Regions from separate parts of the Homo sapiens genome. Here region 2 is linked to region 1. Evidence: fine-mapped expression QTL. A gene starts in region 1. The other region holds a variant in brackets. All regions are shown on one strand. Distances are from middle to middle. Region 1 holds the start of CD99L2 (CD99 molecule like 2). Region 2 overlaps CD99L2 (CD99 molecule like 2).

Region 1 (5,368 bases):
GAAACTCTGTCTGTACTAAAAATACAAAAAGTTAGCCGGTGTGGTGGCTGGCGCCTGTAGTCCCAGCTACTCAGGAGGTTGACGCAGGAGAATGGCGTGAACCCAGGAGGTGGAGCTTGTAGTGAGCCGAGATCGCGCCACTGCACTCTAGTCTGGGCGACATAGCAAGACTCTGTTTCCAAAAAAAAAAAAAAAAAAAAGATCCAGAAAACTGGGCCCTTATCTTGAAACCAAAGCTGCTTCTGGTTTCAGTTAATTAATTTAAACAATAAGCTGGGCGTGGTGGCTCACGCCTGTAATCCCAGAACTTTGGGAGGCCGAGGCGGGCGGATCACGAGGTCAGGAGTTCGAGACCAGCCTGGCCAACACAGTGAAACCCCATCTCTACTAAAAATACAAAAATTAGCCGGGCATGGTGGCGCATGCCTGTAGTCCCAGCTACTTGGGAGCCTGAGGCAGGAGAATTGCTTGAACCCAGGAGGCGAAGGTTGCGGTGAGCCGAGATCAGGCCACTGCACTCCAGCCTGAGCAACAGAGCTAGACTCCGTCTCAAAAAAATTAATTAATTAATTAAAAATAATTTAAACAATAAAAGATAACTGGGTAGCAGTCTTATCTGGGTTGAATCCTGGCTCTATGTCTTCTGAGCTATATGACCAGGGCCCCCTCATCTGAAAGCCAGTGATAATATCTAGCCTGCAAAATTGTCGAGGCAATTTAAAGCAATATATGTGAAGTGCCTGGCACACAGGAAGAACTCAGGAGATGGTAGCTGGTAGCAAGGCTGTAGATCTAAGCCTGGTCCCCTCAAAACACCTTTGTGATTGTCAGGCATCATATGGATGATCAAACAAGTTCGGGGAACTCATTTTCCCATGGTCCCTAAGTAGTCGAAGTGGGGTACCTCCAGGTGCAAGGGCATATGCCTAGGGCTTAAAGGCAGTGACTGCGCAGTCAGACAAGCCTTGCATCAAATCATAATTCTGGCAATCGCTGTGTGACCTAAGGCAAGTTACTTCACCTCTCTGTGCCTCTGTTTCCTCATCTATAAAACAGATGTACTGTTTCTGTCTCCTCTACCACCTCTTAAATCAACAATTGTAACGTGCAAATCTGAGACCCAATCATTTCTATTCCCCACCTTCTCAACGGGCACACCATGTTGAAGACTTTCAGAAGACAGCTTTGAAGGGAGTATCATTTTTCTAACTTTTTTTGTGCTTCTACTTTCAAGATTTCCATGTCATTAGATGCAAGTCAATCAAATGATCATACATTTTCCTACAAATGCATTGTAAACAAAATAAAAATTTTATCCCAAAGGGAAAATGAAAAAGAAAATTCAACAACTCTTTACCCCTGTAACTTCCTTTATTTTTCTCCATAGCACTGACAATATATATAGATTTCAATGTTGGGCTTGTTTTCTGCCCGGACCAGGATGTAAGCTCCATGAAGACAGTCTCAATTTTGTTCACTACCGCATCATCAGTTCCTAGAACAGAGCCTGGCACCTCTGCAGAATGTTAAATGGCTCTTCGTGAATCAACTCCAGGTGGGTTGCCCACATGAAAAACATTTCTGCATCTTTTGCAAAAGTGGCTTGGCTAGTACCATCCACTGTTTTCCAGTGTTCCTTTATGTGACATAAATCTTACTAGAACTCAGTACTAGGACAAAGTGTGTGTGTGTGTGTGTGTGTGTGTGTGTTTCCTGAGCTCACATATTTTCCACCAGCTGGGTTCGCTTCTATTGTCAGGAAGCTTGGAGCATAATTCACGTTCAATTACAGTGTTTCCCTTAATCCCTTTTTCTGATGGGGACATAGGATATAAATAAGTGTAAGAAGATTCTGTTGGTACATGTTTAAGACCCTATTTTTAACCACAGACTGCATTTATTCTACTAAGATGCTTCTCAAACTTGAATGTGCCAGAGAATCACCCGCGGATCTAGTTGAAATGCAGAATCAGACTCAGTAGGTCGGGGGCGGGGCGTGAGATGCTGCAGTTCTTACAAGCTCCCAGGTGATGCCTATGCGGCTGGGCCCTGGACCACATTTTGAGTAGCAGAGGGTCTAAGAAACGTGCTTCCTTGATTCAGCGGGATTTCTCTCTCCTGCTCCTTGGCAAAACATGACCAAAGTCTCAAAAACTGAAGCGGACGGCAGAAGCACCTAGAGAGCTGGTTAGACCTACGCCTCGCTGACCCCCCCCCCCCCCCCCCACAGCCCATGCCCGCTGTGATCCCGATGAAAGGGGCTAGGAATCCACCTAGGAAGTTCCCCAGGTGCTTCTGCTGTCGGTGGCCTCGCAGCAAATTTCGAAAATGACTGCTCTCTTCAAGGTTTTCTCAAAGGTAAACTCTTGGGGACAGCTGTTGTCACCAGTGGTACACCTGCTCGTTCAGGATTTTAGGGGGCCCATCCCGCTGTTTCCAGCCCAGCGTCAGGAGGGGACCCACCCCTCCTCTCCGGCTACTCCGACCGCGGCGGAGTCAACCCCCACGGGCCCGGGGCTCGGACCCCCGCCGCTCCGCCTCGCACAGCCGGGCCGGCCGGTGGCAGCCACCGCAGGCCCGAGAGGCGGGGACCGTGCCGCTCATGCGCAGAGCGACCCCTGGGCCCACAAGGCGGGGTCCCCGCGCGGTCCCCGCGCGCCCCCCGCCCGCCTTACCTCGCTGGACCAGGGTGGCCAAGGAGAAAGCGAGGCAGACAAGGAACGCCGAGCGCCAGGCCACCATGGCTGGGAGCAGGCGGAGGGCCCCGGAGGAGCACAGTTAGCGCGAGAGCGCCCGAAGGGGAGGCCGAGGAGGAGCGGGAGGAGGAGCCCCGCCGCCTCTGCAGGGTCCCGCCCAAAGCCCGCGCGCGCGCGCGGCGCGGCCCCGGGAAGATGGAGGTCGGGCGCGCTAGAGAGCCGGCGCCTGAGGGCGCCTGGGCTGGGGTTAGGCCGGGGGGCGGGGCGAGGCTGCAGTATCGGGGGCGGGGCCGCGTTCTGGAGGCGGGGCTCCGGGCGAGGGGCGTGGCCTGCGGGCACCCGGTGGGTGGGGAGGCCTGGGTTGGGTTGGGCTGGGTCCAGCGGCAGCGCGCGGTCCGCAGACCCTGTCCCACCTCGGTCCTCGAGACCGAAGTCTCGGAGGTGGCCCCGCGGACCTGGAGCAGTGAGTCACCAGTGCCGGGGAGCGGGAGGCGGCAGCGCCGGTGGGCGCCGATTTCCTCCCGGGTGACCTTGAGAAGGGCTCTTCCCCTTCTGGCCTTGGTGTTCTCCCGGTGAAGGGTTGTTCCCTTGGGGCCCCTCCAGACACCGTCCAGCACGGAGCCCCGCACTCTGTCCCCACCCGCTGTTCCCTGCAGGAGTGAAACCCTGGCCGGAGACTGAAGAAAAGGACCGTTTTCGTGACTGGCTGCGGTCAACAAGCAGTGACACGTCTCGAGAAAACGAGGCCGGGGGCGCCCGGGTGGGCGACAGGGGAGGATGGGGGCGTCCCGGAGCCGAAGCGCCGCGGGCTCGGGAGACTGGGGGTAGGGACTGGGTCAGCTCTCCCGAGGCTTTGATGAATGCGCTGAAAGTGCAAGTTCATATCTGCAGAGTCGATCTCAAAAACGTGCTTAATGACCGACAAACGCGCTGCAGTCCTTTCCCATGAACCCCCGCAAACGGAGTCCGTCTCCCAGACCCGAAGAAATCAGATTCCGATACGATACTGTGCCGACCAGCAAAATGCCCGCTGCAGCAGTTGATGGGAACGCTCCCTAGAAGAGCCCCAGCTGCAACCGGCTCTCGAAGACAAAGAGGAAGCGCTACTGCTCTCCGGAGTGGTAGCGTGAGCCTGTCCCTGCCATTATGCGGCACCGGCTGCCCAGGGCCACATCCTCCTTAGAGGGCGGCTACTACCACCTCCCCTCAATATCCATTCGGCAGCTTTCCTGTGCCCCCAACCCAGCCCTCGCTGCCATAGGCACCCCCCTCAGTGGCTCCCACCAACCCCTAAGGAACAGTGGGGTGTGGGGTCTCCCTGAGATGGAGCCGAAATCTCCCGTGTGGCTTACATCCATTGCCCTGAATCTTAGGGCTGCAGAAACAAAACAGCATATGAGGAGTGGATCTTCCCAGGCTCAGGGCATTAATTACTCTATGAATGGAACATTATTCCATTCTAGCTGTAGAATTAACAGAAATAGCTGGTAGTTATTGAACACACACTATACACATGGCATATTCCAGGCATTTTACCCTTAATTTTTATTCCTCACAATGCCTTATGTATCATCACCTATTAACGAGGGAAAAGCAGCAAAATGGAGGTTCCTTGAGGTTGGGGAGTTAGCCAGGTCTAGTCTCATGTGTCAAAGGGGGAGGGTACCACTAGGAACCCCAGCTGGTGAATGGCTAAGAATGTGTGCTGTAGAGCCAGACCGGGTACAAATCCTGGCTAAACCCAACAAGGTTGTGCTAAGGATTAAATGAGGTGGTGAAAAGTGGACAGCCTGCACACAGTGACAGAGGGCAGGGACCATTACTGGTTAATCTAGTAACGGCTAAGGAAATAGTGGCCACTGTGAGGTCAGGAGGTTACTGTCTATTCCAGGCTGTGGACATGCCCCCACCTTTGCTACTAAGTGCCCTGAGCCATTCCATAGGCCCTGGTGGTACCATCTGTACCTGGAGGGCAGTAGATTTTCTGGTCTTTAGGAGTCTTCCAGGATCTGATGGGTAAACCCTGATGCATACACACTCATCTACACTGAGGAGGTGAGAAGCATGTAACCTCTTAAGTTTGAGGCCATGTCAATCAATATGCAGTGGACAGTCACACTCAACTGGAACTCTAGCTGCTAAAGGTGCTACAATGCCATATGCAATAAGACTGTCTTCTAGCTCAAGAATAGTTCTCAAACTACACCCCGTGGGCTAAATCCTACTCCCACCTGTTTGTTCAGCCTTCCAGCTAAAAGTAGTGGTTGCATTTTTAAATGGTTGAAAAAAATCAAAAGAATGTTATGACATGAGAAAGTGATACAACATTCAAATTTCAGGGTTCATGAAGTTTATGAGAACACAGCCACGCCCATTGATTTTTGTATTCCCTATGGTGGCTTTTGTGCTGCCACAGTGGAGTTGAACAGTTGTGATAGAGACCATGGGGCACACAAAGCCTAAAATATTTACTGTCTAACCCTTACAGAAAAAGTTTACTGACCTCCGTTCTAGCAGATTGAACCATGGCAAGGATGAACATTAGCAGGTGATGATATGGGACCTTAAGAGTGTGCTCCTCTAAAGCGCAAAATGAACATAGATGACCTGCTCTGACACAGGAATAAGAACCAAAAGAAAAGGACAATGTTTATCATTGTGGCCAAAAGATA
Region 2 (5,368 bases), 130 kb before region 1:
ATATGATGATGTAAAGTAACTAACTTTATGTGATTTAATTCATTCAGTAAATTGTAAATGTATCATGAGTCTTAAGTAAGTAAGTAAGTAAGTAAGTAAGTATTTTGGCTGAAACAGGAAATACTGATTGATTGATTGATTGATTGATTGATGATTGTAAAGTCAGAAACGCCCTCAGCTCTAACCTTGAGAAAACGTGGACGACTTGGGGAAAGGTCTGGAGACACCTGAGAGGAGCCAGTCAGGGTGATGAGTCCTTCGCATGCAAGTGCAGTGCTCTCTAAGGCCTCAGACTGCCCCCACCCCAAAGGAAGGGGCGTTCACCTTTTCAGGGCCACGAAGGCCTGGATGAAATCACACCACCCCCTGTGCCCTCTGTGTGTTGTCGGTCTTCTTGTTAAGGGTGTGGGGTCCCTGTCCCTCTCCACACACGTTACTACTGAGTGAGCCAGAGAGCCCGGTATTCACTGGGCACAGAGGATGCCCAGGGGACTGCTTGCCAGCCAGCCTTCCCCAGCAGTGAGACCATAGCAGCTAGCCATGCAGAACTCCTGCACGAGACAGGCATATGGTGGTCTCGGGTTTGAGAGGACCTGATGCTATTATTTCACTAGAAGCCGAGGTTGGCAAAACAAAATGAAAAAACAAACAACCGACCTCCATGTTAAAACCCAGGGTCCACTGCATCTTGTTTGTTTTCATGCTGAAATGCCCTGAACTGAACTGTCGTCTTCTCAATTTGAAGCCAACATGCGAGCTGATGAGAAGGACATACTTCATCCCAAACGGGCCACTCTCCATGAGGCTGCAACAAGTGACGAGGTGCAGGGCTCCTTTCTCACCCAGCTTTCTGGTTGAAAAACAACTGCGCGTTAACTGGAACCTCCACTGGTTACCAGCCTGCTTGGAAGGCGGCAGAGCAGTCGACTTGGGATTTGTGAGCCTGGGACTTTTTGCTGCTTCCAGGCCCCGGACTGCGCAACCCATGTAGCCCGGGAGCGGCCCCGCAGCACTCTGCTCCTGCCTCTGCCCTCTCTAACCCCAGGACATTGGTCGCTCCACATCCCCTGGCCTTAGCTGCTTGTACGGTGAGGAGTCACCCTTGGAAGTCCTGACACTGAGCCAGTCACTGAGGGGTAAATGCAAGAATTCTAAGCTTCTCGAGAAATACCTTCAGCTGGGGGCGGGGCGGGGGGAGGGGGAGGAGGGCAGCTCTGCATCATAAATTACTTACTTTAGGGAAAAGTGGCAACACTTGACCAAGGGCGTGCCTTAACACCATCAGAAGACAAGAATCTGCTCGGTGCCATTTTATTTAATGCAAACACTAGACAGTTTACAAGTCACACCTGGACACAAGCACGTGAACAGATGTACAGGGAATTCTGGAATTTTGAGATCAGTCCCCATTTCTTCCTCAGGGCCCTGGCACTGAACCCCAGCCCCTGTCCCAGAGCCTCCCCTCTGGGTCCCACCCCAGAAGCCACGCACACCTCCTTCCGCCCAGCTTTATCTTTCCTTGAGCTGTGACTTCACCCAGCATGTGCTCAGAGTTGTTACAAATTTTCTCTGCCAAATTAAGCTGATAGAGATTGGCCACTTTCAACCAGTCCTTTCAGTCCACTGTGTCTCCCCTCTCGCTTGGGACAGGCCCATGCTGGCCAGTGCAACCTTCAGATAGACACATGGTGACCAGAGCCCGCCAGGCTTCTGCAGGTGGCAGTGTCGAGCAAGTGTAAGATGTCTGTGGGAAGGAGAAGCTCCTGAAATGAACGTTCTGCAAACAGAAGGCTGAGGGGTCTTCCAGGCATGTCCAGTCACTAGGAGCTGCCACCGGTGGGCTTGAGTGCCAGGCTCTAGGCTTTGTGCAGAAAGCACCCGGGGCGGGGGGCGGTAAGGGAGAGCAAAATGGGTCTCTCTCAACTGCAGTCAGTGCTCCTGGGAACACGGTCTCACAGACAGCACATATTCTACGTCACAGCTCTAGGGTTTCAAGGACTTAGCCATCCGACAGGCCTCACCATAAAGGTAAAGTGGACAACCCCTGAGGTCACGCTGTCCAGGTGGCGACAGGCCACGCATGCCAAAATCCTCCATAGCCACCTCCGGCCCAGCACCAGCCAGAGGGTGGGGCCATCGGTTCTCGACATACTTGGTATCAGGGAGGGACAAGCCTGACAAAGTTCACAATCTGGCCAATGAGTGTGGGAGGCCCTGGAAACAGGCCAATCCTGCAAGCCACCCCACCCTTACTAACTTCCTGAAGCATGGGAAGCTTCTCGAGACCAGGCCAAGGTTTCTTTCCTTCATGGCACCACGCAGAGGCATTTCTGCAGTGCTGCAGGTCCCCCTTCAGCCACACAGTCCAGGTCTGTCAGGGATTAAAGGGCCGAGCAGGAAAAGGGGTGGTAAGGAGCTCAAGGGCACGCACTGGGAATGGCCTCACAAGGCAGCCTTGAGACGCACAGGGCTACAACTGACCACCCTCCACCACAGGCATGTTTGCAAAACGAACACGAGGCATGCGTTAGACAGATGCATGTGGGGGCTGCAGATTCCAGTGGTTTCCTTAAGAAACTGGAGTTGGCTCATCCCACTCAGCAGACAATCCCGCTCAGTGGACAGCCTATGAAACGCATGGGGCCATCATGCAGACCAAAGAGGCCCGTGAGTTTTGTAAGATCCTGCCTGTCTGGTGACTCATATCTGCTTTCAGAAGTGCTTTCTGACACAGCAAACTGACTATCAGTAGACAGGGGCCCTAGACCCTAGCATGTGGTTCTGTCCCGTGAGCCTCTGACAACAGAGCTCACCGGGACAGAACCATATGTGGGCCAAAGGAACATTCCAGGAAACCAGCTCTGCTCCAGCCCAAACCAGGCAGCTCCACGCCAGGTGAGGGGCGAGTCATGGGGTTCCTGTGTTTGCCACGGTGAGCATGGCTCCCCACGCACTCTCCCTCAGAGCAGACAAGTAGGCTGACCACAGAGCTACAAAGTCACCTGCGTTTCACTAAACCAAGCGAATGTCTCTTTCCCCTCTCCTCCCCCGCCGCCCCCAATTACATTTTTAAGCAAACAAGCAGGATTCTGGCTTTGATGCTCGTTCTTGACATCGGTCACTCTTGCTACCAAAACAGGGACACAGGGTGGAGGGTGAGCACCTCTCCCCAACACAGGATAAAACTCATCTCCGGTGCAGAAATGATTGCTAAAGACCTTTCTCATGTCAACC[C/G]GAAGGCCACACCCAGCCCCCTATGGAATCAGATGGGAAACAGGCCTACGAATTGCTTCATACTTATCCGGAAGATTCCTAAGCTCTCAAGGCAGGACTATCACGAGATGCATGTTTGTACTTAAATCACTGAAAGCCTCCGCTTGGACCGGCTCTCCGGAAGCCCAGCAACATAAAACCTGGGATGGGGAAGACTGAAGTGAAACCATCATCCTGGGTGCTGCGTGTGTGTGGTGTTACTTGGTGCTGACCGGTTCGCTCCTTGCAGGGGCTCCAAGTGGGTGCAGGCTGAGCCCCCCACCTGCAGCTCCTTGAGGCCACTGTCAGGGGCTGTCTATTGGCAGAAACCTGCCACAATGAGCCACTCCAGTGTGCAGGGGTCACAGTCCCTTGAGTTCAAACTCTTGTCCCCTAAGCATAAATGTCATCAGGCCTCAGCATCATCTTGGCCCCCGCATCCTGTGCTCAGTAAAGCTGGAGGCAGGCTGGCTTTGGGAGTTGGTGGCTCAGCAGCTCCCGAGGCTGGTGCTGGCTTTCTATCAGAGCTGGCTCTTGAATTTCGGCACCAAGTCTCAGCACGCTTGGGGCAGGGCAGAGAAACCAAACTCACAAACACCCAGAGCTCATCCGGGAAACTCAGACCAACAAGGAGCCGATGGCACAGAGCAGCACAGCAGCTGCGGGTCCAAATGAAGGGGTGGGGGGAGCCGGGTGACAAGCGGTGGCACCATTGTGCATGCCTGCAGCTGGACAGGGCCCTCAGATCCGGGCTGGTTCGGGCGGCGGCGGCGGCTCTGCAGACTGCGTGTGCAACGTGGAGTATTTCACTAGGGGAAAAAGAGGCCGTCAGAAGGAATTCTGCTCTGTCTTGCACAGAAGAAGCAAATACAGCAGCAAGCCCGTGCTGGGAACAGAACTGGGTTTCCCTTTGTATCCCCTGGGGGGCCGCTTAGCAACCTTCCCTCCTGAGCCTGGGAGCAGTTTTGGGCCGGTCAAGGGGAGAGAAAGAGAAAGCTGGACAGGCTCTGGAAACAGCTCAGCCTCCATCTCCTCACCTAAAAAATGAGCGTGTTCCTGCCAGCGCTGCTGGAAGGGTTATTTTAAACAAAGGGCTCAACCTAGCACCTGCCCACACAGATGCTGGCCTCGTGGTGGCTAACCGTGGCAAAGCTCATGACAGTGGATGCGACAGCGGAATCCATTTTTCCACATCTGAACCCAGGCCTATTTTAGTTCATTTGGTGCAGCACTGCCACCCGTCTTCAGCAGCATTGTAGGGCACCTGGCTCCCAGTACACACCACACAGGCTGAGCCCCTCCTGGTCTCCCAGGCCCAGTCCCCACGGCTGCTGCACTGTAGTTCCACTGGCAACACTCGCCTGAGCTGTCCTAGTCTCCCTGCCTGCGCCACCAGGCCTCGGCTGCTCCCCGACCCCAGCAAGCCTTTCCGGACCTCCTCATTGGCATCCCGTGGGCACAGGTCATATCTGCCTCGAGCAGTTGGGCACTCTAGGCCTGTGGCCTGAACTTATGCGACCTCAAATTGCCAACAGCTCCTGAATCCAGAAAGTGCTTGATGACCACAGAAGGGGGAGGGAGGGGCACAGGTGTTGACAATAGGGTCTGGGTTTTACCCAAGTTCCCTCTTGCCTGTGGCAATTTGCAAAGGGAAAAGTTCTAGGTCTAGGTGAAAAGCTTCCCCATGGCTCTGTTCAGGATGTAATTGTATTCGCTGATGGGGAGCAGAGGTGCCTGGGGCTCTGGCTCGGACGGACGAATCAAGGGCAGGGGCCGAGCAGCCGCAATGCCCAGAAGTCACAGGCATGGCAGCAGATGGCCCTGGCTGTCACCCCAGCATCTTTGGGCTCCTGAAACTGGGAGGCAGGCTCATCAGGGCAGGCTTTTGCTCTGGCCGGACATTCTAGAAGCAGACGCCTCTGTGCTTCCCTGCTTCTCTAGCACAGTTCTGCTCAGTGCTGGGACCAACTAGGAAAGCGTCAGCAAGGGACAGTGAGTACAAAGTTCTCACCTTGGGGTTCCTCACATACCACGGCTTCCAGGTTCTCTCCCTTCACGTAGTCTGCGTTGAGACCCTCTGCAAAGGGAAAAGGGCAGAGTTAGTGATGCGCACAGG

The links.
Region 2: its variant is fine-mapped to the expression of CD99L2 in whole blood (TOPMed, PIP above 0.99). The same link has a PIP of 0.9 or more in monocytes.

The regions. Positions count from the first base shown.
Region 1 is chrX:150,895,847-150,901,214 of GRCh38, forward strand. It overlaps CD99L2 (CD99 molecule like 2), which reads right to left and starts at 2,822. Exons shown (of 11, transcript NM_031462.4): 1 at 2,676-2,822. The coding sequence starts at 2,742. RefSeq lists a silencer at 2,497-3,106.
Region 2 is chrX:150,765,041-150,770,408 of GRCh38, forward strand. It overlaps CD99L2 (CD99 molecule like 2), which reads right to left. Exons shown (of 11, transcript NM_031462.4): 10 at 5,264-5,329; 11 at 1,296-4,061. The coding sequence ends at 3,994. MTMR1 (myotubularin related protein 1) reads left to right here. Exons shown (of 16, transcript NM_001306144.3): 16 at 1-68. Among named protein-coding and RNA genes, the nearest start is that of MTMR1, 74 kb to the left of the region's middle. RefSeq lists a silencer at 2,648-2,757. The variant C/G (reference allele first, on the strand shown) is at 3,235.